Linked DNA regions of Homo sapiens: region 1 is linked to region 2. Evidence: fine-mapped expression QTL. A gene starts in region 2. The other region holds a variant in brackets. All regions are shown on one strand. Distances are from middle to middle.

What was found.
Region 1: its variant is fine-mapped to the expression of PEX13 in whole blood (TOPMed, PIP above 0.99).

The regions. Positions count from the first base shown.
Region 1 is chr2:61,039,162-61,055,960 of GRCh38, forward strand. It overlaps PEX13 (peroxisomal biogenesis factor 13), which reads left to right. Exons shown (of 4, transcript NM_002618.4): 3 at 6,565-6,690; 4 at 9,311-12,829. The coding sequence ends at 9,609. Among named protein-coding and RNA genes, the nearest start is that of SANBR, 18 kb to the right of the region's middle. The variant C/G (reference allele first, on the strand shown) is at 9,475.
Region 2 is chr2:61,007,329-61,024,127 of GRCh38, forward strand. It overlaps PEX13 (peroxisomal biogenesis factor 13), which reads left to right and starts at 10,392. Exons shown (of 4, transcript NM_002618.4): 1 at 10,392-10,523. The coding sequence starts at 10,432. PUS10 (pseudouridine synthase 10) reads right to left here and starts at 10,927. Exons shown (of 18, transcript NM_144709.4): 1 at 10,680-10,927; 2 at 4,437-4,577; 3 at 1,433-1,687. The coding sequence starts at 4,562. RefSeq lists enhancers at 5,103-5,272, 10,799-10,848.

The sequences.
Region 1 (16,799 bases), 32 kb after region 2:
GTACTGCCCAAGGTAATTTATAGATGCAATGCTATCCCCATCAAGCTACCACTGACTTTCTTCACAGAATTGGAAAAAACTACTTTAAAGTTCATATGGAACCAAAAAAGAGCCAACATAACCAAGACAATCCTAAGCAAAAAGAACAAAGCTGGAGGCATCACACTACCTGACTTCAAACTATACTACAAGGCTACAGTAACCAAAACAGCATGGTGCTTGTACCAACACAAATATATAGACCAATGGAACAGAACAGAGGCCTCAGAAATAATACCACATCTACAACCATCTGATCTTTGACAAACCTGACAAAAACAAGAAATAGGGAAAGGATTCCCTATTTAATAAATGGTGCTGGAAAAACTGGCTAGCCATATGTAGAAAGCTGAAACTGGATTCCTTCCTTACACCGTATACAAAAATTAACTCAAGATGGATTAAAAACTTAAATGTAAGACTTAACACCATAAAAACCCAAGAAGAAAGCCTAAGCAACACCTTCAGGACATAGGCATGGGCAAAGACTTCATGACTAAAACACCAAAAACAATGACAACAAAAGCCGGAATAGACAGATGGGATCTAATTAAACTAAAGAGCTTCTGCACAGCAAAAGAACCTATCATCAGAGTGAACAGGCAACCTACAGAATGGGAGAAAATGTTTGCAATCTACCCATCTGACAAAGGGCTAATGTCTAGAATCTACAAAGAACTTAAACAAATTTACAAGAAAAAAAACAACCCCATCAAAAAGTAGGCAAAAGATATGAACAGATACTTCTCAAAAGAAGACATTTATGCAGCCAACAAACATATGAAAAAATGCTCATCATCACTGGTCATCAGAGAAATGCAAATCAAAACCACAATGAGATACCATCTCATGCCAGTTAGAATGATCATTAAAAAGTCAGGAAACAACAGATGCTGGAGAGGATGTGGAGAAATAGGAATGCTTTTACACTGTTGGTGGGAGTGTAAATTAGTTCAACCATTGTGGAAGACAGTGTGGCGATTCCTCAAGGATCTAGAACTAGAAATACCGTTTGACCCAGTGATCCCTTACTGGGTATATATCCAAAGGATTATAAATCGTGCTACTATAAAGACACATGCACACGTATGTTTATTGTGGCACTGTTCACAATAGCAAAGACTTGGAACCAACCCACATGTCCATCAATGATAGACTGGATTAAGAAAATGTGGCACATATACACCATGAAATACTATGCAGCCATAAAAAAAGATGAGTTCATGTCCTTTGCAGGGACGTGGATGAAGCTGGAAACCATCATTCCCAGCAAACTATCATAAGGACAGAAAACCAAACACCGCATGTTCTCACTCATAGGTGGGAGTTGAACAATGAGAACACATGGATACAGGGCAGGGAGCATCACACACTGGGGCCTGTCAGGGGGTGGAGGGGCTTGGAGATGGGTAGCATTAGGAGAAATACCTAATGTAAACGACGAGTTGATGGGTGCAGCAAACCAACATGACACATATATACCTCTGTAACAAACCGGCACACTGTGCACACGTACCCTAGAACTTAAAGTATTAAATGTAAATATATATATAGGTATATACATATATATATATACCTATATATTAAAGTATAGTATATATAAGTATATATGTATATATATAATATATGTGTATATATATAAAAAAGTATATATATGTGTATATATATAAAAAAGGTATATATATATACACCTTTTTACTAAGAATGGTTTTTAGGTAGAGCTAGGGCAGAAGAGACCAATCAGGAGAGTCAAGCAGCCATTACCTTAATTCAAGTGAGAAGTGATGGTGGCTTGGCTCAGCATGGCAGTGACATGGGTCCTAAGATAGAGTCAGATTGGGATTACTCACCCCTGTAATCCCAACACTGGGAGGATGAGGCCTGCAGATCGCTTAAGCCTGGCAAATCGCTTGAGCCCAGAAGTTTAAGGCCAGCCTGTGCGGCATAGGGAAAACCTGTCTCTACAACAGTTACAAAAAGTATCCGGGTGTGGTGGTGCATGCCTATAGTCCCAGTTACTTGGGAGGCTGAGATGGGAGGGTGGTTTGAGCCTTGGAGGTTGAGCCTGAAGTGAGCTGAGATTGTACCACTGTACTCCAGTTTGGGTGACACAGCAAGACCCCGTCTCAAAATAAATAAATGGAAGAACTAATATAAGTGAATGATACTACTATCATACATAGAAAGATAGAAAAGAAGACAGACTAAGATGGAAATCAGGAAGAACAGAAGTAGAACCATATTATTGCTACATTATGGAGGAAGAGTGGAAGGATGATGAATGATGTAAGGTTCTACAATAAGATCAAGAACTGAGAAAAGATTATTAGATCTGGCAACTGGAAGTCATCAAGCTCCAGCAAGTAGTTTTGGTAAAGTGGAGAAGACAGAAACTGTAGCAGAGGATAAAGGGTAAATAAAGTCAGAAGATGTGGAAAAAGAAAAGATTAGCAGTGAATGGAAGGAGGGAGGAAAAGAATGGCCAAATTGAGTGATCAAGTTGTTGTGGGAGATTGTCAGTTTTTTGTTTTGCTTTGTCTTTTCAGAAGTGAGGAGATCTGAGAATGTTTTTAGGCTAAAAGAAAGGAGTCAGTAGAGAAGGAGCAGTTATAAATAAGGGAAAGATAGGAGTTAAATGATGAAGAAGCTACTATAGGAAGTAAGAGAGGGTGTGATCTTACGGAACCTGGCAGGTAAAAAGGAAGGACGGTTTTTTATCTGAGTCAAAAGGAGAGGAAATCGGTAATGATACAAAGAGATTTTTGAGGAGAAGCAAAATTGAGGTCCTATTACTTTAGCTCTTAGAGCAGGGGTTGGCAAACCGTGGCTTGTGGGCCAAATCTGGCCTGCTCCTATTTTTGTACAGCTCACAAGCTAAAAATGGTTTTTATACTTTTCAGTTGCTGGGAAATTAAAAGAATGTTTTAAAAATTGAAATAATCTGTGATGTGAAAATTATATAGAATTCAAATTTCATTAATAAAGTTGTATTGGAGCACAGCCACACTTATTTCCATACATATTGTTATGGCTGCTTTTCCACTGTAACAGTGGAATTGAATAGTTTGCACAGAGACTATATGTGAAATTCCGATGGCTTCACTTTTGCTCTGCCCACTACAAATTTCAGTAACTTAGTTATAACTTGATAGCATGATGAGTAATATATACATTGTTATACTACAGTGGGTTTTTTTTGAAATTATGAATTCATATATGACACACAAGAAAAAAGTGTACTTTGAGTGTCATATTTTCAAGGCACAGTATAGTATGAATTATTTCGTTATTGAATTAGATAGTAAAAAAAACTGTATTTATTATACAATGACACTATAGCTATGTTAAATGGCTATACTACATATCAGCATTACCAGATTGAGCACTCATCACAGAAAATCAACAGTCAAAAAAATTAGAAAATTTAAAATGGAATTCTCATCACAGCAGAATTTCCGCATCAAAATAAAAATAAAATAAAATGAGGCTGCAACCAAAATAAGTTCCTGAGAGGTTCATATGTTACCCAAGCAAGGAAACCTGTTTACTCATGGTCATTGCAACAGCCAAAAAAAATATGTCCAGAGAAAGTAAACTTGTTTAAGATTATTAGCTTCTCAGTGAGAACAGTTCCTTGAAGAGTTGATGGCATTTTGAACAACATGGCCAACTTAAAATAAGACAAATGATTTGAATGTTTTTCCTTGGCTCATCATGACCCAATGGATATTAATACTTGCTAAATCTGTTGGCTAAATGTTGTCATCATGGGAGTGAGTTCATTATCTCGAGAGTGAGTTTGTTATACAAGCTAGTTTGGCCCTCTTACTCTCTCGCATGCACTCTTTTGCCATGTGATGCCTCCTGCCATGTTATGACACAACAAGAAGGCCCTTACTAAATGCCCCTTGATCTCGGATTTCCTAGCCCCCAGAACTGTGAGCAAATAAACTTCCATTGTTTACAAATTACCCAGTCTGTAGTATTCTGTTAAAGTAGCATAAAACAAAGACAGGCTGGGTTCGGTGGCTCATGCCTGTAATCCTGGCACTTTGGTAGGCCGAGGCGGGCGGATCATGAGGTCAGGAGATGGAGACCATCCTGGCTAACGTGGTGAAACCCTGTCTCTACTAAAAAAAAAAAAAAAAAAAACAAATTTTCAAAAAAAAGACAGTACTGCTTAGTTGTTTATTTGAGAAATCAATGGTGAATTGGAAATGACTGAAGAATTAGCCTCTATGAATAGTCATGGTTCAACTACAGACAAGAACATTTTCAAAGAAGGTGAAAACACTGATTCCGTACAACCTGAATCTGCTAAGATGTGTTGCACCTGATAATGGTGAAAATTCTAGGTGGAGCAGGAAAAGGCCTAGTTGGACAAAAGTTACAAAGGTTTTGAAAATACAGTTTTTTTGTTTATGGTTATTCATTGTATTATCAGCAGCCACATTGCAGAAAATATTTGAATTTATCATGTGTTATTGAACTAGTAGTGTCAAGGTAAAGTTTATTCACTCTTGTGACATAATCATTGTCAGTTTTGTGAATTTTTGTCAGATACAGAAGCTGAAGATCCCGACTTGCCCTACCGCATGGCAATTCAATGGCAGAACAAGGTTTAAGTTTTATTTTATTTTTTTTGAGATTGAGGCCAAGAATGAAATTTTTCTGAACAGAACTCCTTTTCAGCTATTGTTATTAAACCCATTCAGCTTTGGAAATCACCTTTTACTGCAGACTTAGTTAAATTCTGAGTTCTTTTTGGAGACAGGGTCTTGCTTTGTCAGCCAGGCTGGAGTGCAGTAGCGTGATCATAGCTCACTGCAACCTCACACTCTTGGGCTCACATGATTCTCCCACCTCAGCTTCCCAAGTAGCTAGTACTAGAAGTACACACCACCACACCTGGCCAATTTATTTATTTATTGTGGAGACGAGATTCCACTGTGTTGCTCAGGCTGGTCTTGAACTCCTGGCCTCAAGCAATCCTGCCTTAGCGTCCCAAAGTGCTGAGTGAGATTACAGGCATGAACCACCATGTCCAGCCCAGACTTAGTTATATTCTTTGTTGTTGTTTTCTTTTTGAGACAGGGCCTCACTCAGTTGCCCAGGCTGGAGTGCGTAGTGCAGTCTCGGCTCACTGCAACCTCTGCCTCCCAGGTTCAAGCGATTCAAGCTGAGACTATAGGCGCGTGCCACCACATCTGCCTAATTTTGTTTATTTTTTTGTAGAAACAAGGTTTCCCTATGTTGCCCAGGTTGGTCTTGAACTGCTGGACTCATGCAATTTCCCCTGTCTCAGCCTCTCAAAGTACTGGGATTATAGGCATGCGCCACCATGCCCGGCTAATTTTGTATTTTTAGTAGTAATGGAGTTTCTCCATGTTGGTCAGGCTGGTCTCAAACTCCCGACCTCAGGAGATCCACCCGCCTCGGCCTCCCAAAGTGCTGAGATTACAGGTGTGAACCACCACGCCTGACCTATATTCTTAAGTAATTCAAACGGAAACCACAAAGCAGAACAGTGCTTATATGCAAAACTTATGCTGGAGTAAAGTTTTGACAACACCTAATACAGTTTGACTCACAAGTAATGTCACACTGCTTTATAGACCTCTCAGACTGTCAGAAGTTAACACAAGCAGTATCTCCATTCCCACGCAAGTTGGCAGCAGATACATTTTCCAAGCTTAAGCTATTAATACAATGCCAGAGCATTTTTTGGACCTCCATGCAAGCACAAAGGAAATTTCCATATTTCAAAATCCATTTAACTATGCAATTGAGGAACTTCCACTTAATCTTCATTTGGAAGTGATTAATCTGCAATGTAATAACATGGTAAAAGGCAAATATCAAGAGAAGAATTTAACAGAATTATATTCTGGCCTATTACTCTCCCAACTAATAAATATGCTCAATTAAAACCACATACTCATAGACTCATATTAGGATTTGACATTACCTATCTGTGTGAAAAGGCATTTTCAAAAATGCAGTACCTCAAATTTTATTACAAATTAGAATTAGCAAGTGAATATTTATAATTGATTTCCAATTAAGTGAAATATCCTTCCCCCAAAATATTTCATTCTTCTAAGTAACTTCCAAATAGACCTGTATTACCAAAAAGAAACATGGTTATTATATTTTTAATCTTGTCAATAAATTTATGGAAATTTTGTTTCCTCTTTTTATAAAAGTAATTGCCCAATATCCTGTTTTGCCTCTTGGCTTTCAAAGTCTAAAATATTAACTATCTGACCCTTTTCAGAAAAAATTTGCCAACCCCTGGCTCACGGTAAGAGAGCGGGAAGTTGGAGCTTAAAGAAAGGAAAAAGTTCATAATAGGTATCTTTAGTGGATCTATTGTTGATTTAACATAGTATTCATTATAGTTTTTACTTGGGAGGGGAGGACTTTTCTCTTGGCAAATTTATGCAGTTTGCAAGCCATAGCCAGTGAAATATCTGCATTTTTCTTTTGTAAATTTTATTAACCTAATTTTAATTTGGCTTATAGACAGCATCAACTGGGCAAGTGGTGAGGATGACCATGTAGTTGCCAGAGCAGAATATGATTTTGCTGCCGTATCTGAAGAAGAAATTTCTTTCCGGGCTGGTGATATGCTGAACTTAGCTCTCAAAGGTAATAAATTATGAATAAGTTGGAATTATCTGTAAATTTTGATATTCATAAATGCAGTATTAAAAACTACAACAAAGGATCTTGTTCATTGTTAGTTAACTTAGAGATAGTTACTAGAACTTCTTTTTCATGTCAATTTAGAGCTTCCAAATCTGGAGGAGTCAGGAAGAAATGCCCCAGCAGAGTTATTCGAATACTATTTCACTGAGATAAGGAAAGGCTTTGTTTATATAGGCTTTTCTAAACTCAAAATACTTGAATTTCAAACTGTTAATCCCCACACAAAAACGTGATGTCAGTAACTAAACATAACAAATCTAATAAAGCAAAGGAATTATGTAACATCATCTAAGCATTGCTGTTAGTCCTTGTGGACTGGTGTTGCTTCTTTATTACTTCAGCAGTGTTTACCTCAGAAATTTCATCATAAGTATTTTAGGAAATAGTGTCATGAAGTATTATAGAACCCCAGCAAGAGATTTATACGCATCTCGGGTTTATTTTTGGACCAAGTCACTGATACTTTTTAATGACTCTAGGCAAAATGACCTTTTCCTTCACCCTTCCTGAGTAATGATTATCAGGATTTTTATGGATTTTTTTAAATATGTGTATTTATGGGGATTCAAGTTTATTGCAAAAAGTGATGTTTTGTTGATAAAGGTACTAATAACAATAACATGTTATTTATTGAGTACTTACTATGTACAAGGTACTGTATTTTACATATTTCATTTAAGCCTTACAATAATACGGTGAAGTGGTACTATTATTATCCTGTCATTGTTTTACCCTTGAAGAAACTGAGACTCAGAATAAGTAAATTGTCCAGTATCACAAAGCAAAGGTGCAATAGAACTGGACTATGAATCTAGGTTTGTCTAACTTGAGACCTTGTGCTTTTAACAACTCTGGCTGTTTTTTCATGGAAGGATCTATTTATGGAAACTTCACCCTTTTTTTGGTTTTAGTCATTTTTTGCAGGGAAGAAATACTTTCAATGTTCAAATCATTACTATGTAAATAATTGAAAATTTTGGATGAGATTACTAAATCTTTGCCTCATCCCTTTTACAAAAAACCTAGACTTAAGCGAGGTGCAGTGTGTGCACCTATAGTCCCACCTACTCAAGGGGCTGAGGCAGAAGGATCACTTGAGGCCAGGAGTTTGAGGCTGTAGTACATTGTAATCACACCTGTGGAACAGCACCACTGCACTCCAGCCTGGGCAACGTAGTGTAACCTTGTCTCAAGAAAAAAAAAACAAACCTCTAGACTTTTAGGTATTCTATTTGTATTTTTCTTTCTTTTTTTTTTGTTTTGAGACAGAGTCTAGCTCTGTTGCTCAGGCTCGAGTGCAGTGGCACGATCTTGGCTCACTGCAACCTCCGCCTCCCGGGTTCAAGTGATTCTCCTGCCTCAGCCTCCTGAGTTGCTGGGACTACAGGCACATGCCACCACGACCAGCTAGTTTTTGTATTTTTAGTAGAGACAGGCGTTCACCATGTTGGTCAGGCTGGTCTCGAACTCCTGACCTTGTGATCCGCCCGACTTGGCCTCCCAAGGTGCTGGAATTACAGATGTGTACCACCACGCTGGGCCTATTCATATTTTTCTTATAGGGAAAATAGCAATTTACTATTTTGGATTTCAAACGAATGATTTTTTAAAGATTTGTTGTTAGAGACAGGAACAACACAGATAATTTTAATTAGAGGTCATGTGGTTTCTTTCAGTTACATAACACTTCAGAAAAATTTTATATTTCATTATTCTTCAATGAATAGTGCCTCTTAACACTAGCTTGCTTCTTGGCTTTCCTCCATTGCTCAAGAAAAGTATGTTTGGGCCTTTGGAACAAAATCGGTCGTAGACATGGTAAATTTGTTTTTTCCTGTTATTATAGAGCATTAAACATTAAAAAGTCTTATATTGTGCCTAAATTATAATGTTGAACTAAAATTGTAACAGTTAAGCAGCTTTTTAAAGATATAGATAAAATAGGAAAATACAATAGAAAATTGAGTACATTAAATAATCTTTCTTTAAGCTTAGAGTATTGCCTTTATTTATCATATGGCTAGAAATAACAAAGGTCTTCAATTTTTTGCCCATCTTGGATTGAAATTAATATTTACTGTCTTCAGGATTGTTTATTACAATCACATGAAACGAATTTTATATTTTTGCCAAAAGTAGGCTAAGAAAGCTGAGTGCATTAAAGGTATATCTTTTCTATACTTATTCCTAACTTACCCAGTTGAGAAGGAATAAGATATTCATTTTTTAGACTCCAGTTTAAAATATGAAAGACATTGATGTTAGTTTTCAGTTTTGAGAGAACTAAATCTCCCTACTCTATGAATGGACCAACTGATAATAAACTTTATGTTCTTCAAGGTGGAAGGAAATATTTAGTAAGTATAAAATAAAAATAGAAGAATGGACCCTAGAACTGTTAAGCCTACTCAGCATTTGATTTTGAATATATATGCATGTACTATTTGTTATCTACTATGTAAGCATAACAGATTTTCCTGAATGTGATATTTTACCATTACTATTCTGTTGGACCTCCAAAGTATATTGTAATTACAAGACTGTCTTTTTTTTCCATCAGAACAACAACCCAAAGTGCGTGGTTGGCTTCTGGCTAGCCTTGATGGCCAAACAACAGGACTTATACCTGCGAATTATGTCAAAATTCTTGGCAAAAGAAAAGGTAGGAAAACGGTGGAATCAAGTAAAGTTTCCAAGCAGCAACAATCTTTTACCAACCCAACA[C/G]TAACTAAAGGAGCCACGGTTGCTGATTCTTTGGATGAACAGGAAGCTGCCTTTGAATCTGTTTTTGTTGAAACTAATAAGGTTCCAGTTGCACCTGATTCCATTGGGAAAGATGGAGAAAAGCAAGATCTTTGATATCTTTCATGTTTGCCTGCAGTTGAACAATACTTTAGAGTACTTTTTAAAATTATTTCTCACAAAGAAATGAATGTACAATCCAATGAAAACATTTGTTATTGGCTATTTCAGGTGTTTTGCTGCTAGAAATTATTAAAGTTACACACTAGTATGTTGGTCTGGTGACCTGGTTACATTTTATTATACACATTATTGGACCATAAGGACATTTGTTTCACCTAGATTTTAAGATTATGGAGACTGCTGTCATTTTTATCTTATTTAAATCTCTAGGTTTATTGGAAGAGTAAGATTGATGAACTATAGCATGCACAGTTTGGTACAGTAGAGATCATTAATACTTTTAAAAGTTCTGCATTAATTGACTTGGAATCCTTAGAAATGGAGTGGTGACATGTCAGTATGAGAACAGGCAAAAGGTAAATTTTTTTTTTTTTTTACAACCTTAAGTAATCTCAATAATAAAATTTTCTGATCTGTATTATATCCAGTGTTGGGTTTATATTTTCACCCACAAACAACTGACACTGCTATCTTTTACTGTATTTTTAAAAATTTAATTTGAAAAGGTCACCCAGAAGCATTCTGAAGGAAATGGTTCTAGAATTATAGAGTATGTAGCCCTAATAGTTTTCCCTCCTAGCAAAAAGTCTGAAATTTATCTTTCTTACAAACTGTTCCATTTCTTCTAAGGATCCCTTAATTATTTATCTCTTTAAGCCAGGCATGGTGGCTCACGCCTGTAATCCCAGCACTTTGGGAGGCTGAGGCGGGCAGATCACCTGAGGTTGGGAGTTCAAGACCACCCTGACCAACATGGAGAAACCCCATCTTTACGAAAAATACAAAATTAGCTAGGTGTGGTGGCACATGCCTGTAATCCCAGCTACTCGGGAGGCTGAGGCAGGAGAATTGCTTGAACCCCAGGAGGCGGAGGTTACGCTGAGCCGGAGATCTCGCCATTGCACTTCAGCCTGGGCAACAAAAGCGAAACTCCATCTCAAAAAATAAAATTATTTATTTCTTTAAAATATGACTAGTTTTCATACTGGGTGAATCAGAAGTATATGAAAGGTATACTTTCTTTTCCTACAACAAATACTTGAGTTCTTTTGAGTTTGCACTTAATGATATAATCAGTTATAATAGTAATTTTTAATATTTTCATAGATTGTTTGCTTCTACCTTGTGTAATTTTTTAAATTCCATATTTAGGATGCTCTGTAAATATTGAAAATGTGTCACATTGGATACATTTTTCTTTTAGGTTTAGTTTTTACTACTGAGACTTATTTATAGTCTTAGTGCTCTATTGCCATTTAGAATATGATAATCCTCATGCCTTTAATCTCAGCACTTTGGGAGGCCAAGGCGGGCGGATCACCTGCGGTCAGGAGTTTGAGACCAGCCTGGCCAACACGGTGAAACCCTGTCTCTACTAAAAATACGAAAATTAGCTGGGTGCAGTGGCGTGCACCTGTAGTCCCAGCTACTCAGGAGGCTGAGGCAGGAGAATCACTTGAACCCGGGAGGCAGAGGTTGCAGGGAGCTGAGATCATGCCACTGCACTCCAGCCTAGGGGACAGAGCAAGACTCTGTCTCAAAACAAACAAACAAAAAATAATAATACGATAATGCTATTTGACGTGTTTTTTGGTTTATAATGATTTTAAATGCAGTTAACTTTCAGTACACTGAATATTTCCCCAGAAAATTGGAAACTTCATATACTTGGCTACGAACATACTACAGAGTAATACTATCAGGAATACAGGTGTATAAGAATACATTTATAGATATTGTTGAAAACTTTGAACTGTTTGATAAAAATTGTGATTTAGTATTTTTTCTTTTGTCTTTTTTTGAAACGGAGTCTCACTCTGTCGCCCAGGCTGGAGTCCAGTGGCGCGATCTCGGCTCACTGCAAGCTCCGCCTCCCGGGTTCACGCCATTCTCCTGCCTCAGCCTCCCGAGTAGCTGGGACTACAGGCGCCTGCCACCAGGCCCGGCTAATTTTTTTTGTATTTTTAGTAGAGACGGGGTTTCACCGTGTTACCCAGGATGGTCTCCATCTCCTGACCTCGTGATGAGCCCGCTTCGGTCTCCCAAAGTGTTGGGATTACAGGCGTGAGCCACCGCACCCAGCGATTTAGTATTTTTTTCTAATAGACTATGTTCAACAAATAAGTAATTCTCGAATAGTTCAGATTAAAACATACAGGAACCAAGTACATACCCAGCATAGAAGAACTTTACTAAAGGCTTCTTGGAAAGCCCTTTTTTGAAACGACAGTATCGTAAGTAACATATCATTTATAATAGAAATCTTGACCCAGTGCAGAAAAATAAATATAGTAAAATTTATTTATCTTTGGCCAGTTTTCCAACACCCAGGTATTAGCCTTGAAGTTGAAGAGATAAGGTTTCTTGTATATTATTTTTCATTTGTGTTCTACAATTAAAGGTTCTGCTTTGATTTGTCAGATAATTTATAGAAATTTTGTTCTCAAAACAAATGTTTGATAAAACAGATTATTAAATTTGGGGTTGAGATGTCTAAATTGAATGCTAGAAGTAAAGTAGAAGTGACCACTATTAAAGATGTATAGGGAGAAGAGTACAGCACAAAGTGATAAAATAGTGACACTTTTGTAGGGGTGTTTATTGTTTGGTTAAGTCTGCTAAATTACGGTATGCATTATCTGGTGACTATTTGTGCCTGAAAATTCGTTTTGTATTAAAATTCTGGAGAAGGAATTCAGGACTAGAATAAAGAGAAATTTTGTAACCTTTTTTATCATGACAGTTTTAGAATAATTTTTTTAGCTGAGATTAAATGTTCAAGGCTCCAATATTATTTTTAGGAACTTATTTAAGGAGTGCTACTTTACAGAAATTACTAACACACCAAAACATTATTAATTAAATAAAATATAAGTTTACAATAATAAAACATGTTTCTTTTAATTTTTCTGATTATATTTTATGAGTTCAGAAAGGAAATGGTAAAAGAACTATACATTTTCATGTTTTAACATTTTATGTACGTACTTGATTCTGTCTGTGTCATAATTACACATTTACTTGAACACAGCTATCCTTTATCTTGTGCTTTCTTTAATAGAAAAATGAACAGAAACTGAATGCAGTTAAATTTTTATTTTTAGTAGGTTGTGAAGTTACTTTTACTGGAGAAATAAAAATATGTTAAACTTGATTGACTTTTTAAGATAAATTGTTAACACTTTTGCAGGATTAGAATTAATATGAAGTATCTCTTTAACATTATTGTATATATTACCTACTGCAAACCTATCTGTTCTGTTTCTTTGTGATTTAAAGAAAAATAGGCCAGGCATTGTGGCTCACACCTATAATCCCAGCACTTTGGGAGGCCAAGGCGGGCGGATCACAAGGTCAGGAGTTCGAGACCAGCCTGACCAATATGATGAAACCCCGTCTCTACTAAAAATACAAAAATTAGCCAGGTGTGGCGGTGGGTGCCTGTAGTCCCAGCTACTTGGGAGGCTGAGGCAGGAGAATTGCTTGAACCTGGGAGGCAGAGATTGCAGTGAGCCGAGATCGCGCCACTGCACTCCAGTCTGTGCGACAGAGCGAGACTCCATCTAAAAAGAAAAAAACAAAAAAAAAAGAAAAATAATACATTTATATAGAATTACCTACAGGTGTGTTAAATAAAAACACTTCATACCTAGATTTTGGGGGATCTAGATTCTAGTTTAGACATCACTGCTTACTGTAAGATTTAAGTCCCATTATTTATTTTTCAGTTTCCTAAATTATAACAATAGGCATAGCTGCTACACCTGCCTCACATGAAAGTGCTTTTTTTTAATGTTAATTTTAATTTTATTTTTGAGACAGGGTTTTGCTCTTGTCACCCAGGCTGGAGTGCAATGGCGAGATCTTGGCTCACTGCAACCCCCAACTCCTGGTTTCAAGCGATTCTCCTGCTTCAGCTTACCTAGTAGCTGGGATTACAGACACCCGCTACCATGCCCAGCTAATTTTTGTATTTTTAGTAGAGTCGGGGTTTCACCACATTGGCCAGGCTGGTCTTGAACTTCTGACCTCAGGTGATCCACCCGCCTCAGCCTCCCCAAGTGCTGGGATTACCGTCATGAACCACCACGCCAGGCCTGAAAATGCTTTTTAAAAAATACAGGGGCCGGGTGCGATGGCTCACGCCTGTAATCCTAGCACTTTGGGAGGCCGAGGCAGGCGGATCACCTGAGATCAGGAGTTCAAGACCAGCCTGGGCAACACGGTGTGATCCCGTCTCTACTAAAAATACAAAAAATTAGCAAGGCATGGTGGCACACACCTCTAGTCCCAGCTACTCGGGAGGCTGAGGCAGGAGAATTGCTTGAACCCGGGAGCCGAGATTGCACCACTGCACTCCAGTGTGGGCAACACAGCGAGACTCTATCTCCAAAAAAAAAAAAATTTATATATATGTATATATATATAGAGAGAGAGAGGTGGGTGTGGTGGCTCACCCTGTAACCCCAGCACTTTGGGAGGCTGAGGTGGGTGGATCACCTGAGGTCAGAAGTTCAAGACCAGCCTGACCAACATGGTGAAACCCCATCTCTCCTAAAAATACAAAAATTAGCCGGGCATAGTGGCGAGCACCTGTAATCCCAGCTACTCTGGAGGCTGAGGCAGGAGGATCACTTAAACCTGGGAGGCAGAGGTTGCAGTGAGCCAAGATCATGCCATTGCACTCCAGCCTGGGTGATGAGTGAAACTCCATCTCAAAAAATAGAATTATACTTGTGTTCTGTTTTACCTTAAGAGTTTTTATTCATCTCCCTCCTGCAATTTCATACTCTACGCTCCCTATTTAATATTTGTCCTTCCAAGCCATCTCTCATGTTTTGGATATAGTTTCTTGAAAACCATATAATATTTATATGTTTAAATTTTTTACATAAATGATATTGTGGCATAAATTTTATTCTCCTAACTTTCATGAAGTATTAGGTTTTTAAGACCTACCCACGTTACTTATATAATGTGCTTTTTTTTTTTTTTTTTTGAGACAGCGTCTCGCTCTGTCACCCAGGCTGGAGTGCAGTGATGCAATTTCAGCTCATTGCAAGCTCCGCCTCCCGGGTTCACACCATTCTCCTGCCTCAGCCTCCCGAGTAGCTGGGACTACAGGCGCCCACCACCACGCCCGGCTAATTTTTTGTATTTTTAGTAGAGATGGGGTTTCACCGTCTTAGCCAGGATGGCCTCAATCTCCTGACCTCGTGATCCACCTGCCTCGGCCTCCCAAAGTGCTGCAATTACAAGCGTGAGCCACCACGCCTGGCCTATAATGTGCTTTTGACCGGTGCATATTATTCTATTGTATTCATATGCCAAAGCTTATCTTTTCCTCTAGTCACAAATACTTATATTTTTCCTAGCTATTTCCACTTCTGCAAGCTTATACATGTCTTCCTATGAAGGAAGAATGCCCTTTCAGGAAACCTGCCCTTTCATTTCTTTGCTATATATGTCCTAGAGTAGAAAGGCTGGAGTTTGAGGTATATGCATATTTAATTTAAGTCATGCTGGATCGTTCTCAGGAATGGTTGTCACAGTTTTCCTTTCCACAAGCAAGACCTGAGGGTTTCATTTTCTCTTCATTTTCAGTAGCACTTGATATTTTCTGATTTTTGCTAATCTGATGTGTATAAAATTGTATTTTTTCTTAATCTGCATTATCTGATTACTGATGAAGGTGAGTATTTGCTTTTTAGTCATTCCGATTTTCCATTCTGTGGATGGTCTGTACTTATAATTTGTCTCTTTTCTATTAAGTTTTTCTTTCTTGCTGATTACAGTATAGTATATACAGTGTGTGCATGTGTGTGTATATATATGTGTGTGTATATATATGTGTATATATATGTGTGTGTGTATATATATGTGTATATATGTGTGTGTGTGTGTGTATATATATATATATATTTTTTTTTTTTTTTTTTTGACACAAGGTCTGGCTCTGTCGCCCAGACTGGAGTGCAGTGGTGTGATCTCACCTCACTGCAACCTCTACCTCCTGAGCTCAAACCATCCTCCCACCTCAGCCTCCCAAGTTGCTGGGACTAAAGGCGCGTACCACCACGCTTGGCTAATTTTTGTGTTTTTTTGTAGAGATGGGGTTTCTCCATGTTGCCTAAGCTGGTCTCGAACTCGTGAGCTCAGGAGATCTGCCTGCCTCTCTGCCCCCAAAGTGGTGGGATTACAGGTGTGAGCCACTGCTCCCAGCCAAGAAATTCTTTATATGTAGATACTATTTTCTTGTCAAGTTCAGATGTTGGAAATAACTTGCCATTTGTTCATTCTTGTCTTTGTTGTTTTTCATATAATAGAAATCCCCCCAATGTTTTATATCTTTTATGTCTTTATTTTGTTTTGTTTTGTTTTTGAGATGGAGTTTCCCTCTTGTTGCCCAGGCTGGAGTGCAGTGGCACAGTCTTGGCTCACTGTAACCTCCGCCTCCCGGGTTCAAGCGATTCTCCTGCCTCAGCCTCCTGAGTACCTGGAACTACAGGCATATGCCACCACACCTAGCTAATTTTTTTTGTATTTTTAGTAGAGACAGGATTTCGCCATGTTGGCCAGGCTGGTCTCGAACTCCTGACCTCAGGTGATCTGCCCACCTCGGCCTCCCAAAGTGCTGGGATTACAGGTGTGAGCCACCACGCCCAGCCATAGGTCTTGTTCTTCTATCAGTTTTATAGTTTTACCATTTACATTTAGGTCTTAAATTTAATTGGAATTAATTTTTGGATATAGTATGAGGTATGAATTCAACTTTTTCTCCATCTAGTCATTAAAAGGAAAGAGTTAACAAAACCCCTTCTCTTGCTCTGGGGAAAAATGATCTTGGGTTTACTTTCTTTTTAGCACTGTTTCCTTGGTAACCTACAAAGTTAAGATAAATATGGAAAGTCAACTCTTTACCAGGCAGCCTTTGTTGTTTGTTTTAACTGTAAAAAGACAAAACACAGATGTTGATTTATCTGAGTAAGATATGAAACCGGTAACCAAGCTTGTTCCTAGTTGTAGGGACCTGGAACCTGCCTTGAGGGTTTTTTACAAGATAGCGCTCCCTATCACACATGAGGCTTACCTAAAGAGGATGCCTCCTCTACATGCCAGTTGTT
Region 2 (16,799 bases):
GCGTGCACCTGTAGTCCCAGCTACTTGGGAGGCTAAGGCGTGAGGATCACTTGAGCCCAGAGGTGGAGGTTGCAATGAGCCAATATCATGCCACTGCACTCCAGCCTGGGTGACAGAGTGGGACCCTGTCTCAAAAAAGACAAAAACAGAAACCAGAAGGTCGGGCGTGGTGGCTCACGCCTATAATCCCAACACTTTGGGAGGCCAAGTCAGGCGGATCACCTGAGGTCAGGAGTTCGAGACCAGACTGGCCAACATGGTGAAACCCCGTCTCTACTAAAAATACAAAAATCAGCTGGGCGTGGTGGCACGTGCCTGTAATCCCAGCTATTCAGGAGGCTGAGGCAAGAGAATCATTTGAACCTGGGAGGCGGAGGTTGTAGTGAGCTGAGATCTCACCACTGCACTCCAGCCTGGGTGACAAGAGCCAAACTCTGTCTCAAAAAAAAAAAAAAACAGAAAAAAAAAAGAATTTGGCCGGGCACGGTGGCTCACGCCTGTAATCCCAGCACTTTGGGCCAAGGCGGGCGGATCACGAGGTCAAGAGATTAAGACCATCCTGGCTAACACGGTGAAACCCCGTCTCTACTGAAAATACAGAAAATTAGCTGGGTGGCGGGTGCCTGTAGTCCCAGCTACTCGGGAGGCTGAGGTAGGAGAATGGCATGAACCTGGGAGGCGGAGCTTACAGTGAGCAGAGATTGCGCCACTGTGCTCCGGCCTGGGCAACAGAGCGAGACTCTGTCTCCAAAAAAAAAAAAAAGAATTCTTGGCCTTGGCCGGGTACAGTGACTCACACCTCTAATCCCAGTACTTTGGAGGCCAAGGCAGGAGGATGACTTGAGGCCAGGAGTTCAAGACCAGCACAGTAACATAGGGAGATCCTGCCTCTACAAAAAGATTAAAAAATTAGGGCTGGGCACAGTGGCTCATGTCTGTAATCCCAGCACTTTGGGAGGCCAAGGCAGGCGAATCATCTGAGATCGGGAGTTCGAGACCAACCTGACCAACATGGAGAAACCCTGTCTCTACTAAAAATACAAAATTAGCCAGGCATGAGGCTGAGGCAGGACAATTGCTTGAACCTGGGAGGCGGAGGCTGCGATGAGCCAAGATCACACCATTGCACTACAGCCTGGACAACAAGAGCAAAACTCCATCTCAAAAAAAAAGAAAAAAAATTAGGTGGGCATGGTGGTGCATGCCTGTAGTCCTAGCTACTCAGAAGGCTGATGTAGGAGGATTGCTTGAGCCCCAGGAGTTGGAGGCTGCAGTCAGCTGTGATTGTACCACTGCACTTCAGCCTAGGCAACAGAATGAGACCCAAAAAAGAATTGTCTTGTCTTGAAAAAAGGAAAGAAAAAAGAATTCTTGGTTTTAAGACTGAAAATCTCTACATAATTGCACCTATAATGAAAAACAGGTTATTTACCTTTTTAATGAAATCTTTCTCACAGAATTCTTGAAGAATTCCTAGGCATACATTACATACATTTAAATTTGAGTTCTTGGAAGCAGTGCTTCCAACATGACTAACAGAGATCCTTCCCTCTCCATTTTGACTTAGATTATCAATACTATCTTCCAGTTCTTGCAGTCGAATTTTCTTGGGAGGTGGGTTCATAACTTCCAAAATTAATTCATCTTTTTCAGTTTCCAGAAATTTCTGTAGTTCATTGAGCAACTCCTGGAAAGTTAATGAAAGAAAAAGTAATGACCCACTGACAATGTCCTTAAGGCTTTCTAGGTAAGATGAAACAAGAAAACATGAGTGAAAATTAGGACATATCACAAATTTTACAATGTTGACATATCAATTCTGAAGCAATCCAGTTATTAGCCAGCATTGGCTTTTATGGAATTTAAAAGAGAATTACCTATCTCTATTATATATGTGAATACTTTTTCAAAAGAGTTCCATATATCAGTGAAGCAAAAGTCATAAATCTGAGGAGAAAGGCTCCAATACAAATTTATTAATTTGTAGTTCTGTTGTGAGAGTCATTCATTGCTAATTTCAGTAAAAACAAACTTTAGTTCTAATGATTAACATATAAAAAGTACAAACTGAATTTCCATCCTTGCTAGGTTATTTAATAACCTCACAATCACTGAAAGCTCACAAGTACAATATTTATTTAATATGAAATCTGATCATTAGGGTAGTCTAATAAGTAAAAATAATTTGGAGAAAATTTACTAAGAAAGGTACACAAATGCTGACAATGCTGAAAGTTAGCATATGATTACAAACCATTTCCATATATTAATTGAAAGCCATGCTCTACTATATTCCAGTTTGCCTAATTTGTCTTGTATTAGAATTTAAAAACCTGCATTTCTTTGAAACCATTCTCATATTTCTCTCATTCAGATATTCCTCTCATCAAAATACTCAGAGGATTTTCCTCTGTTTTGTTTAGACATGTTTTATTATGCCATTGTTGAAAAAGTATATTTTTCAAATTCATTCAGATGACAATTTACTGACTGTAAAGGGAAAAAATCTTTCACTCAAACAAATTTAAATCCATTTTATTGAGAAATTAGCTCTCCTGCTTTAACAGAGAAATATACATACATACATACATATACAGGTACATTTTGACTCACACAAATATGTTTGTTGTTACCTAAGATCTATAATATAGATATAACATAGTGCATATACAGATGTGCATGTACATACATAGTTACATGAATAGAACAGATCAAAATTTATGAACATTTCCAAAAAGCTGTCCAAATATTCTTGTATATTGCCTTACATAAAATGAAACAAACGAAAGTTGATAACACTCAGTCTCTTAATATAATATAAATTTAAAACCTAATAACATATAATAGATAATAGGTTACAGTGTGTCTGAAAAAAATGTGTAAGCAGGGTTACACAAAACCAGTCTTATTACTTTACAGTCATATTGTGTATAAATGAATATACACATATTTAAATCATCATAGCACAAGTACCATTTCTGGTTTTTTGTTTTTGTTTTTTTAATTTTCAGACGGAGTCTCACACTGTTGCCCAGGCTAGAGTGCAGTGGCATGATCTCGGCTCACTGCAACCTCCGCACCCCCCACCCCTGGGTTCAAGCAATTCTCCTGCCTCAGCCTCCCAAGTAGCTGGGATCACAGGCACCTGCCATGGCGCCCAGCTAATATTTGTATTTTTAGTAGAGACAGGGTTTCATCATCTTGGCCAGGCTGGTCTTGAACCCCTGACCTCGTGATCCACCCGCCTCGGCCTCCCAAAGTGCTAGGATTACAGGCGTGAGCCACCGCACCCAGCCAATTTCTGGTTTTCAAAGTGTTTCCACGTACTTTATTAGGTATTGTCCCTTAAAGTCCTGTGAGGTGGGTATTATCATCATTCCCATTTACAGAGGAGTAAACTGAAGCTGGAAAGTGGTGGAACTGGGATTCAAATCCATGTCTTCTAGTTCCAAATCCTAGGTTTTGAATTCAGTCAGACTGTTCAAATCCTAGCTTGCTCACTTAATAGCTGTGTAACTTTGGGCAGGTTGCTTAACCTCTCTGTATCTCAGTTTCTTCATCTGAAAATAGAGACAATCATAGTATGTACTTACCTAATCAGTTATTATGAGAATTATATAAGACCTTGACATATAGTAATGATAATTGAATATTGTGTATTATTATTGCCAAAATAATAGAAACAACTAATAACATTTTAAAAATAACTGATACTACTAACTCCTGGACAATTTTTTAAATTATAAGAAACTGTGTGTGTATATGTTGTATACATACTGTTTATAATGTATATATTTACATATGTATTACTATCTGCTTCTAAAAAGAATATCACTTTTAGAATCAAACATTTCATAAAGATGTTACATATCTTATGCAAAAAAGTGTTATATTAAACCTCAAAGCTCTCTGTATATTACCATAAATGTCAAAGATCTCTGTATATTACTTTTGTCATTAATAACAGTAATAATGATGATAAGCATTTATTTCTAGAGGATTCCAAATACCTATTTATAAACACAACTGGTAATACAGAAAATGGGAAAAACAGAAAAAGGCAACCATACCCACAATGCTTCCACATAGTAGGACATGTAAGGAATATTAGCCCCTCCTGGGAGGAAGCAATATTTTGTGATATTCTGTTTAGATATCCTTTAGGAAACATCTATACAAGTGTTCAAATGCACCAGGGAGTTCCTCCACAAAGATCCCATTACACTAAATGTTAGAAAGCTAGATATAATCACTTAAGAAGGAACTTACATTTCTGAGACTATTCCAAAATTATGAATATCACTCATTTTATTATAGTTTTTTAATTTAAAAAAGAGTTATGAATAGATACCTGCCCTCAAAAGTACAAGCATTCATTGTAAAATACAGAGAACCTTCTCTTAATTTGAAAAAAAAAAAAAAAGAAAAGAAAATACCTTGTATGGAAGTTTGTAAGGTGCATGAAAATCCACACCACAGAATCTGAAGATACATCTTGGACAAGTACCAGTATTGAGCAACAACTGGGCCACATGCTTGTTTTCCTCAGTCAGTGGGAACATATTGAATAATTATAACTAGAAAGAAAAGAAGTAAAACTAATGAGCAGCTTCTGCGTTTTACTGTCACAGACAAGTCATCATGTTTAGGGATAAAAACTAGCTTTCATTTGAAAAACACTATTGTGTACTCTCTAACCAAGCCCCTTTCATTACACACATATTATAAAATACAAATTTTAAGGAAGTTCATAAGATGGATCCGGTAAAGGTTTCTAATTGCTAAGGAATTTAGTGTAGCATTTTGGATTATGATAAAATACATCAATATAACTAAGTTGATCAAAAGAAATAAAAATAATCAAGAATGGTTGCTTCTGAGGAGGGTAATGAAAACAGAGGTACAGGGTGAAATTTTGCTTTTTGTTTTGTACCATTCAGTATTGTACAAAGTTAATTCATTAAACTTTTCCTGTAAGAAATTAAAAATGAGTTTGCTGGTAGTGGGGCTCAGAAAGCCATACCCCAAAATGAAGGCCTCAGCAGCAGCCTCAGAAGCAAAAGTTTTTCTCTGACCTTCTGCCCTCCTGTCTGTCTCATTCTTCCCCAGACTAGCCATAGAAAAACTACAGTCTCTCTTCCTCAAAGTGAGTCATAGAAACCAGAACCCCCTTTCCCCAAAGCCAGCCATAAAATCTAAAAATATTACTCAAATTTGGTCAGGCACAGTGACTCATGCCTGTAATCCCAGCATTTTGGGAGGCCGAGGGTGGATCACCTGGGGTCAGGAGTTTGAGACCAGCCTAGCTAACATGGTGAAACCTTGTCTCTACTAAAAATACAAAAAAAAAAAAAAATTTGCCGGGCATGGTGGCAAGCAACTGTAATCCCGGCTACTTGGGAGGCTGAGGCAGGAGAATCACTTGAACCTGGGAGGTGGAGGTTGCAGTGAGCCGAGATTGCGCCATTGCACTCCAGCCTGGGCAACAAGGGAGAAACTCCGTCTCAAAAAAAAAAAAAAAAAAAAAAAAAAAAAAAAAATATATATATATATATATATACACACACACACATATGCCTATTACTCAAATTTTCCCTCCACCTTTCTGAGTAAAAACTGACCATGAAAAACTAGGCAAGGTGCAGTGGCTCACATCTATAGTCTCACCACTTTGTGGTTGTGGGGCCGAAGTAGGAGGTTCACTTGAGGCCAGGAGTTTGAGATCAGCCTGGGCAACAACCCACAAGACCCTGTCTCTACAAAAAAATTGAAAAATTAGCTGGGCATGGTGGTACACACCTGTATTCCCAGCTACTCAGAAGACCGAGGTGGGAGGATCGCTTGAACCCAAGAGGTAGAGGTTGTAGTGAATCAAGATCATGCCACTGTACTCCAACCTGGGTGACAGAGCAAGACCTTGTCTCTAAAAAGAAACAGAAAAAAAAAAAAAAAAGATGAAGAAATGATCTAACCTCTCTTGTCTGACTGTAGGTCATAAGACTCCCCATTCCATGGCAGGTCCTGCCCCACACCCAGAAGGAAGGAATGCATGCTCTGAGAGGCCAAGAACCTAGACAGGCTTGCTGGGTTTCCCCACTGAGTTGATTACCTTTTTGTTCAATCATATTTCTATGTGCCATCCATACTTTGATGAACCTAAGCATAAAAATGGACAATTTCCCCTGTTATCATTATGTCTTCATTCTGAAGGCTCCTGTGTATACACATTACATAAACGTGTATGCCTTTTCTCCCATTAATCAATTTGCCTCATGTCAGTGATTTTCAGAGAACCTCTAGGTGGCTAAGGGCCTTGGCATTCAGACTAGACAAAAAAATCTGATCAGTCTACCTTATATAATACTGGACTACCCTTAATGATAGCTTAGCGGCCAACTATTTAAAACAAATTGAGGCCGGGTGCAGTGGCTCACATCTGTAATCCCAGCACTTTGGGAGGCTGAGGTGGGCAGATCACTTGAGGTCAGGAGTTCAAGACCAGCCTGACCAACATGGTGAAACCTTGTCTCTACTAAAAATACAAAAATTAGTTGGGTGTGGTGGCTGGCGCCTGCACTCCAGCCTGGGCAACAGAGTGAGATGCTGTCTCAAAAATACAAACAAACAACAACAACAACAACAACAACAAAGTTGATCAGCAGGTCTAAAGACATCAACTTTACTTTGATTATATGACTAAATGGCAACCACCTGTTAACAAAATAAAAATCTGCCCCTTTCATGAGTAAAACCTCCAACAAAAGGTCAGGCGCAGTGGCTCACACCTGTAATCCCAGCACTTTGGGAAGCCGAGGCGGGCGGATCACCTGACAACAGGAGTTTGAGACCAGCCTGGCCAACACGGTAAAACCCTATCTCTACTAAAAATACAAAAAACTATTAGCCAGGTGTGTTGGCGTGTGCCTATAATCCCAGCCACTCAGGAGGCTGAGACAAGAGAATCACTTGAACCCCAGGAGGCGGAGGGTGCAGTGAGCCGAGATCATGCCACTTCACTCCAGCCTGGGCAATAAGAGCGAAATTCCATCTCAAACAAACAAGCAAACAAACAAACAAAAAAACCTTCAACAAAAACAAATTAAGTACAAAATATTTGAGAGCAACTGTTTGCTTAAATTGCCAATTTTTGCAATTTAAATAAACTCACAAAAAAATACTATATAGAGAATGAAGGCAAATCTGTCTCCTGTTACCGGGAAGGAGGGGGTACTAAAAATTCAAACAACCTAATTTGTTCAGCAAAACAAGATCTTCTAATTAGTGAAACAGTTCATATTACCTTAAAATGATCAACTGCCCATATTTTAGAAAATAATCATTGCATGGCAATCTTATGGCATGCTGTAACTGTGGTCATAAAGATGAACGACAGTGGCATCTTTTAATTTGTGCAGTTTCATAATTCAAATGAACTTGCTTAAAATTTGTGGAAGGGTGAAGCTCCTCCCAACAGCTTAGTATAAAGACGTGATTCTTCTAGTCTGCGTTTTCCAAACCTCTAAAACTTCCTACTTACTTGCAAGTTGCTAAATGTTTGGGGCCACTTACCAAGATTCTTGCACAAAATAATGAGGAAGACAGGCATATAGTTACATAGAACTCTTCACCATAAAAATCAGTTCAGCAGCCAGGACTACTAAAAACAGATTGCCTCTGGCTGAATTCTAATTCAGGGGAATATGTGAGTCAGCAGAGGGAAGAAAATCAGGCTTGTATGGACACACCATACAAGCTGACAAGGTGACAACTTTGAAACACCAGAATTGAGAAACGCATAGTTAGGGTTGCCTAAGTAAATTTGGGCTCCAGGGTATTTTCAAGAAAGAAAACAGAATATGTGGAAAACAGCCTCTAAATAATGAAGATCTGGCCAGGCCCAGTGGCTCACGCCTGTAATCCCAGCACTTTGGGAGGCCGAGGCAGGCATTATCACTTGAGGTCTGGAGTTCAAGACCAGCCTGGCCAACATGGTAAAACTCCATCTCTACTAAAATACAAAAATTAGCCACGTGTGGAGGTGTGCACCTGTAATCCCTGCTACTCGGGAGGTTGAGGCAGGAGAATCACTTGAACCCAGTAGGTGGAGGTTGCAGTAAGCCCAGGACTTTGGGAGGCTGAGGCAGGAGGATCATGAGGTCAGGAGATCGAGACCATCCTGGCTAACACGATGAAATCCCATCTCTACTAAAAATACAAAAAATTAGCCATGCGTGGTGGCACGCACCTGTAGTCCCAGCTACTCAGGAGGCTGAGGCAGGAGAATCGCCCGAACCCAGGAGGCAGAGGTTGCAGAGAGCCAAAATCGTGCCACTGTACTCCAGTCTGGGCAACAGAGCGAGACTCCATCTCAATAAATAAATAAATAAGATCTGTGTGGTCAAGGTCAAGTCATTACTATTTACTAGTGATCTGGATCCCTTTTCCCAGCCCATTTAATCTACTTTGATGCAGAGAAGAGATCGGATGCTGTGAGGGGCGAATATAAGCATTTACAGTGCATCTCTGACTACATACACAGAGAAACTGTTTCTGTTTCACCTGTTACTCTAAGTTATTTTTTCTCCATTAGTTAAGGTCAAGAATTTTACTTAATTCAGAAGTAACATTTAACTCAAAAAGAGACAGAAGAAATACACCCTCTTCCAATAAATCAATAAGCACTTTAAAAGGACACTTAATGAAGATTTCCCTCGATACTTAAATAGCTATATTAAAATTTATTTTATTTTCCATGGCTAGAAGACAATGTTTATTTTTCCAGTAAGTTCACAAGAACAAAGGTATCATGCAAAGTAAATAAATGACACATTACAATCTCCTGGCTCTGAGAAGTTCCCAAACCTGATTGATGAGAATTACAAAACTTCCAGTCCTGAGTAATTTGAAGAGGTCTAAAAATAGACCCCAAAAAAGACCTCTTTTGAATGTGTGTTAATAAACGAGCTATGAATTTACAAACCTCTCAACATCATTTTCACCTACCAACAATTTATCAACTTCTCAAGAATGTTAACATTAAAAGGAGAAAATACGTTACGTCTTAAATTTGGTTTTTTCATCGTGAGATAATTAAATGCCAGGATTTCATAAGATATTAGAAATCGGTTGTCCATATTAGATTTATTATGTTTGAAAGCAAGCCCTGAGAAAGGCATTCCACAATGTAAGTTTTCCAGTGTTGGTTACCCTCAAGATGTTTGCTTTTCGTTTATGTGTTTGTTTTATAGAAATAACTCTGTAACAAGTTGCTACAAAGCCGCCTTTCATGTGTCAGGCTCCCTAGGAGGACTGAATCCCTCCTCCCCAAATCAAGGATAACTAGCCCAGTCTCTGGCTTACTGGAGGAGAGGAAGGACTTTATTTTCACCTCTTGGACGATTACAAAAACCAGTCATCGAAAACGAGAAAAGGGGCAGGGTATAAGAAAAACTAGCGAAATGACCAGACTGAGTCTCATATCCTAAGATCTTTTAAAACTCATTTCCCTACCGAAGGGTGTCATTCGTAACGCGGCGTGGGGCTGGGGGTGTGGATTTACGGAGAAAGAGGTGATCACACTTCACTGGGCTTCTGAAACATTCAGCTCTGGAATCTACTGTGGACTCTTGAAAAGTTCATCCCGAGATCTAACCTCAAGCCTCAGTTTTCGCCAAGCAAGCCCTTCCCCCTTCGGTCAGGTGCAACAAACTTCCCACTCACCCCTCCTTTGCTAACAAAGCCGCTCCAGCAGGAGAGAAACGAACTCTCTCCCGCCACACCTCTTTTGCACCCAGTCTGCACTCCTTCACCTCTTACCTACCCGCCTCACCTTCTCCCCAGACGCCGGAGCCTGAGATTTAACCCCTTCCGGCCCTCGAAGGGAAGAGGGAAGACTAAAGACAACGCACCTATTGCGTCTAGCAATTCTGTTCCCCGAGGAAACGTGCGTTTTAGAACAAAAGTACCAGCCCGCTCTCGCTAGGACTAAGTGAGCTTCTCCCTTCTTGTTTGTAGAGGAAATCCGAAAAACTGCCTGGTTTGCCACCTCACCCTACCTCCCCCACGAGCGAAGGAGTGCGTGCGGCTTTACTCCCAGCCCGACTGGTCCACTCCCAGAAAAGCCTCGGTGGGACTCCGACGTCTAGGGAGTTGTAGCCGCTACCAGAAATATCGATGAGCCTTTACCCTGAGGTTTAGAAAGGCAGCTCTTTCTGGGGCAAATACAAAGAGCGTGTTTCTTCCTACAAATTAGTGGCATCCTCCCGCTGTATGGATTCAGCTGGCAAAGTAACTCAAGCCTTGTCCTGACTGCAAGGGTGGGCGGGGTGGACGGCTCGGTGTTCTGCCCGTTGTGTCTTACGCTCCAGGTGCTGGTCTACGCGGGCCTGGACAGTCAGGGGTAGGAGCGGGAGCCGAGAGGAGGCGGAGGAGATGGCGTCCCAGCCGCCACCTCCCCCCAAACCCTGGGAGACCCGCCGAATTCCGGGAGCCGGACCGGGACCAGGACCGGGCCCCACTTTCCAGTGAGTGTGGGATTCTTCAGGCTGTGAGTTTAGTGGGCCCGAGCGGGGACTTGGCAGGAGGCGGTTGTAGCGGTTGTTAGTGGAGGTATTCCCTTCCCCCCTTTAACCAATACCCAACCTTGGGGATAGGGGCCGAGGTGGAGCTGGGGCGCTTACCAGTGGGGACTTTAGTGTCTCACAGCTGTTTCTGACCCGGCAGCTCTAATCAGCAACGTTTTTTTCGGGAGCTCCTGGGCGTCTCTCTGGGTCTCTGTGCTTGAAAGAAAGGGGGGCGGCTTCCTACCTACCGCTTCTGTTTTCACTTTGACAGAATGGCTTCTCTATCTTTAAAGCGTAGACTTTGGTCTGTAGCAGTTGAGAGCGGCATTTGTCCAGCCACGGCATCGACAGGGAGCAAAGTCTCTCCTTAAAGGTGTTAACCTCTCGAGAAGTTGCTGAAAGCCGGAAAGGTTTTACGCAACAGGAACTCAAGCCCCGTACACTTTGCATTCTTTTCCAGCATAACTCAGCCAGTGTTTCGGATCGAGATTGGAGAAGCAACTTTAAAGCAGGAGTTCTAGATCTGAGGCCTATGGATGGACTTTGTGTGCAAAATAGTGTATTTTTCTGAGGCCTGTATTTTTTTTTTGTTTGGTTTTTAATCAGTATCAGTTGGTTTCTAGGACTTTAAAAAGGCTAAAACATGCAGAGTTGGGAGTGTTTCGTGGCCTCGTGTGGCTTTTGTTTGGTAGTGCTGGACATCTTAATTCAGATAGGTGTGATTCAAATGTCAAATCACCTACTATTGTAGGTTTTCCTAAGCGTAAAAACCCCAACATATTGGAATGTATTTCTGCTGTATTCTGAAATCTTTTATTTAAACACTAAAATGCTTTAACACAGTAACGACTTAGTTTAATAAGGATATATACATAACAAGTAATAAGTTTGATTAGGCTGGTAAGCCACGGTGACATTATCTGCTACCTTTTTTTTGAGTGGGTTCTTTTTTCCCCATTTAGGCTGCTTGTCGAATGAGAGAGGTTTTATTTTTTGCATCTGTTAAAGTTCTTTTTATGTAAAATTAACCATTTTCCCACTTTATCGTGAAATATTTTAAACACAGAGACCAGTAGAGAGTAAGATAATACCTATATATTCACTACTCAACTTTAAACAGTGTTAACATTTGCCAGACTTATGTCGAATTTTTCAAAATAAAAGACGGCTAAACTCTCCCATTCTTCTTTATAGTGGTGACTATTGTCCTTATTTGGTGTTTCGCATACCCAGTAATGTTTTTATATTTTAGTACTTAGGTTTGTGCTATTTATATGCATTTTATATCTAAAACTTAACAATGTAACAATAATATATATTTTATATCTAATTACATGTTACTATTTATATATTATTTTTTGTATCTGTTTTTGTTTTTTCTGTTGCCCAATTTTCTATTGGCTTTATCTTTGCTTACCAATTTGTAAGAGTATTGTTAAACTAATCCTTTTTTGTTACTACATTTTGCTAATATTTTTCACTGTGTGGCTTCTCCTCTTTATATTTATGTTCAATTTTTTGTACAGATGTTTTTGATTTTAATACAGCCAAAATTGTCATATTTTATTGTTTATGCTTTTTGTCTTGGTTAAGAAATCCTGTCTACCTAGATCAGGACAGTTTTTCTGTATGTTTTCTTTTAAATCTTCCGGTTTTTTCATTTGCATTTAATCCACATGGAACTGACTTTGTATAAAAATCTAATTTTTTTTTCCATATAGGTAACTAATTGTCGCAGCACCATTTATTGAGTAGTCTATTCTTAGTTTTTAATGCCATCTATGTCATATCAAGGTTTCCTAAATATGTAGTTCTGTTTTGGGCATTTTCTGACTTTCTACTAGCACCACACTATCTTAATTACAGAATTTTATAAGTCTTGATATGTAGTATGTCAAGAGTTTCCACACATTGCTGTTCTTTGTAATTGCGCTCTTTACACTTAGTCCTTTATAAAAAGACTTACTGGGATTTTTATTGGAACTGAGCTGAATTTATGGATCAAGTAAGTTTTTATTCCATGAATATTGTATAAGCTACAATTGGTGGGAATTTATCTTTTTGCCTTAAATATCTTATAATTATCCACTTTGGGAGACTGGGCGGGCAGATCACGAGGTCAGGAGATCGAGACCATCCTGGCTAACTCGGAGAAACCCCGTCTCTACTAAAAATACAAAAAAACATTAGCTGGGTGCGGTGGCGGGCACCTGTAGTCCCAGCTAATCAGGAGGCTGAGGCAGGAGAATGGCGTGAACCCACGAGGCGGAGCTTGCAGTGAGCCAAGATCACGCCACTGCACTGCAGCCTGGGCAACAGAGGGAGACTCCATCTCAAACAACAACAACAACAAAAAACTTATAATTACCTCCATGAAATTTTTTTCCATATTTTATTTTTTATTCCTAGATTATTTTTGCTGTAGTAGTTGCAAATGGGCTTTCTTTTTTCCTTTTACATTTTCCAGTTGGTTATTAACTGGTATGGCAGAATGCTATTGATTTTTTTTAATGTAAATATTATGTACAGCATAATCTCAAACTCTTAATTAGTTCTGATGGTTTGGTTGAAATTCTCTTTAGTTTTGTGTAGCCAGTTCTGTCATTTACAGATAAGCTAGCATCCTTGTATTGGTCCTGACTTCCACTGGAGTGCTTCTGAAGTTTTACTGTTAAATGTGAAGTTTGCTTTTTGTTTTTGATAGATATCTTGTCAAAATTCTCTCTCTCTACCTTGCTCAGATTTATTTTATTTTATTTTTATTTCATTTTTATTTTTGTTTGAGATGGAGTCTCACTGTGTCTCCCAGGCTGGAGTGCAGAGACGCAATCTTGGCTCATGGCAACCTCTACCTCCTGGGTTCAAGTGATTCTCCTGCCTCAGTCTCCCGGACAGTTGAGACTACAGGCGCGTGCCACTCCGCCCAGCTAATTTTTGTATTTTTAATAGAGATGGGGTTTCACTATGTTGGCCAGGCTGGTCTTGAACTCCTGACCTCAGGTGATCTGCCCACCTAGGCCTCCCAAAGTGCTGAGATTACAGGTGTGAGTCACTATGCCCAGCCCTTACCTTGCTCAGATTTTTATTGTGAAGAAATATTAAATTTTATGAATGGCTTTTCTGCATCTGTTGAGACCATTGTATGTATTTTCGCTTTAGTATGAAAATGTGGGAATAGGAACAGCTCTGGTCTGCAGCTCCCAGCGTGATTGACGCACAGGACGGGTGATTTCTGTGTTTCCAACTGAGGTACCTGGTTCATCTCACTGGGACTGGTTGAACACTGGTCGCACCCCATGGAGGGTGAGCCAAATCGAGGCGGGGCATCACCTCACCCAGGAAGCGCAAGGGATTGGGGGATTTCCCTTTCCTAACCAAGGGATGCCGTGACAGACTATACCTGGAAAAATGGGACACTTCTGCCCAAATAGTGGGCTTTTTCCACAGTCTTAGCAACAAGCAGACCAGGAGATTCTCTCCCATGCCTGGCTTGACGGATCCTATACCCATGGAGCCTTGCTCAGTGCTAGCACAGCAGTCTGAGATCAATCTGCGAGGCAGCAGCCTGGCAGGGGGAGGGGAATCCACCATTGCTGAGGCTTGAGTAGGTAAACAGAGCGCCCAGGAAGCTTGAACTGGGAGGAGCCCACTGCAGCTCAGCAAGGCCTACTGCCTCCATAGACTTCAGCTCTGTGGGCAGGGCATAGCTGAGCAAAAGGCAGCAGAAACTTCTGTGGACTTAAACGTCCCTGTCTGATAGCTCTGAAGAGAGCAGTGGTTCTCCCAGCATGGTGTTTGAGCTCTGAGAACGGACAGACGGCCTCCTCAAGTGGGTCCCTGACCCCCGTGTAGCCTGACTGGGAAACACCTCCCAGTAGGGGCTGACAGACACCTCAAACAGGCAGGTGTCCCTCTGGGACAAAGCTTCCAGAGGAAGGATCAGGCAGCAATATTTGCTGTTCTGTAGCCTCTGCTGGTGATACCCAGGCAAACAGGGTCTGCAGTGGACCTCCAGCAAACTCCAACAGACCTGCAGCTGAGGGACGTGACCATTAGAAGGAAAACTAGTAGACAGAAAGGAATAGCTTCAACATCAACAAAAAGGACATCCACACCAAAACCCCATTTGTAGGTTACCAACATCAAAGACCAAAGGTAGATAAAACCACAAAGATGGGGAGAAACCAGAGCAGAAAAGCTGAAAATTCTAAAAATCAGAGCACCTCATCTCCTCCAAAGGATCGCAGCTCCTTGCCAGCAACGGAACAAAGCTGGACAGAGAATGACTTTGACGAGTTGACAGAAGTAGGCTTCAGAAGGTCGGCAATAACAAACTTCTCCGAGCTAAAGGAGCATGTTCTAACCCGTCGCAAAGAAGCTAAAAACCTTGAAAAAAGGTTAGATGAATGGCTTACTAGAATAAACAGTGTAGAGAAGACCTTAAATGACCTGATGGAGCTGAAAACCATGGCACAAGAACTTCGTGATGCACGCACAAGCTTCAATAGCTGATTCAATCAAGTGGAAAAAAGGATATCAGTAATTGAAGATCAAATTGATGAAATAAAGTGAGAAGACAAGATTAGAGAAAATGTTTATTGTATCAACCTTCTATTGTTGAACCATCCTTGCATTTCTCAATGAACTTTGATTAGTCTTGATTTTTTTCTGATATGCAATTCCAAATTCTATTCTAAACCAGTTGGAGTGGTTCACATTTGTAATCCTAGCATTTTGGAAGGCCAGGGCAGGAGGATTGCTTGAGGCCAGAAGTTCAAGACTAGTCTGAGCAACATAACAAGACTCTGTCTATAAAAAATTTTAAAATTGGCCAGGTGTAGTGGTGTGTGCCTGTAGTCCTAGCCACTAGGGAGGCTGAGGTGGGAGGATCCCTTTGAGTCCAGGAGTTCAAGGCTGCAGTGAGCTGTCATCATACCACTGCACTCCAGCCTGGGTGACATAGCAAGACCCTGTCTCCAAAAAGAAAAAGAACTCTATTCTAATATTGTGAGACTGTTGCATACATGTTCCTAGGTGAAATTGAATTTTTTTTCTTTGTACTATTCTGGTTTTGTATCAAAGTTTTATAGCTAGATAGGTTTTTCTGTTGAGTCTAATTTCCTTTTTTTTTTCAGACAGTGTCTCACTCTGCCACCCGGGCTGGAGTGCAGTGGTGCAGTCATGGCTCACTGCAGCTTCTACATCCTGGGATTAAGTGGTCCTCCTGCCTCAGCCTCCTGAGTAGCTGGGACTACAGGTGCATGCCACCATGCCCAACTAATTTTTATATTTTTAGTAGAGATGGAGTTTTGCCTTGTTTCCCAGGCTGGTCTCGAACTCCTGGGCTCAAGCAATCCTCTCACCTCAGCCTCCCAAAATGCTGGGATTACAGGCATGAGCCATCTCACCTGGCCTAATTCATTTCTTTATAGGCAGACTGCCTTCTCCTTAGTAGCCTTGATACGTTTGGTCCTCTAGCTTTATTATATTGTAACCAGGTAGGAATATACAGACACACACACACACACACACACACACATATTTTTTTTTTCTTCCTGCTTAGTATCCACAGTATTCAGTCTGAGGATTCATTTCTTTTTTTAATTCAGGAAAATGCTCATCAATTATACCTTTAAATATTATTTTAAGTTTTGTTTGAACACTAGTCTTTACTGTCTCTTCTTCTGTCAAGCATTATATCGGGACTAGTGTCTGCTATAAGTAACATTATCTGACTCACTGTGATTTGGACTATTAAGACATTTATTGTTTAGTTAGCAAGAAGTCTAGAGATCTGCCTTCTCAACATTGTCATCAAGGGACCTAAGTTTTTCCTGACTTCTTTTTTTTTTTTTTTTGTCAGCTCTCTTGACTTTTTGGCCATCTCTGTCTTTTGTTTTGTTTGTTTGTTTGTTTGTTTGTTTTGAAATAAGTTTCACTCTGTCACCAGGCTGGAGTGTGGTGACGCAATCACACCTCACTGCAGCTTCCATCTCCCAGGGCTCAAGCAGTCCTCCCACCTCAGCCTCCCGAGTGGCTGGGACCACAGGTAAGTGCCACAACGCCCAGCTAATTTTTGTATTTTTTGTAGAGATGGGTTTTTACCATGTTGCCAAGGCCGATCTTAAATTCCTGGGCTCAAGTGATCTTCCCACCTAGGTCTCCCAAAGTGCTGGGATTACAGGCATGAGCCACCACTCCCTCACCATCTCTGTCTTATTCTTTGCTCCTTTAAAA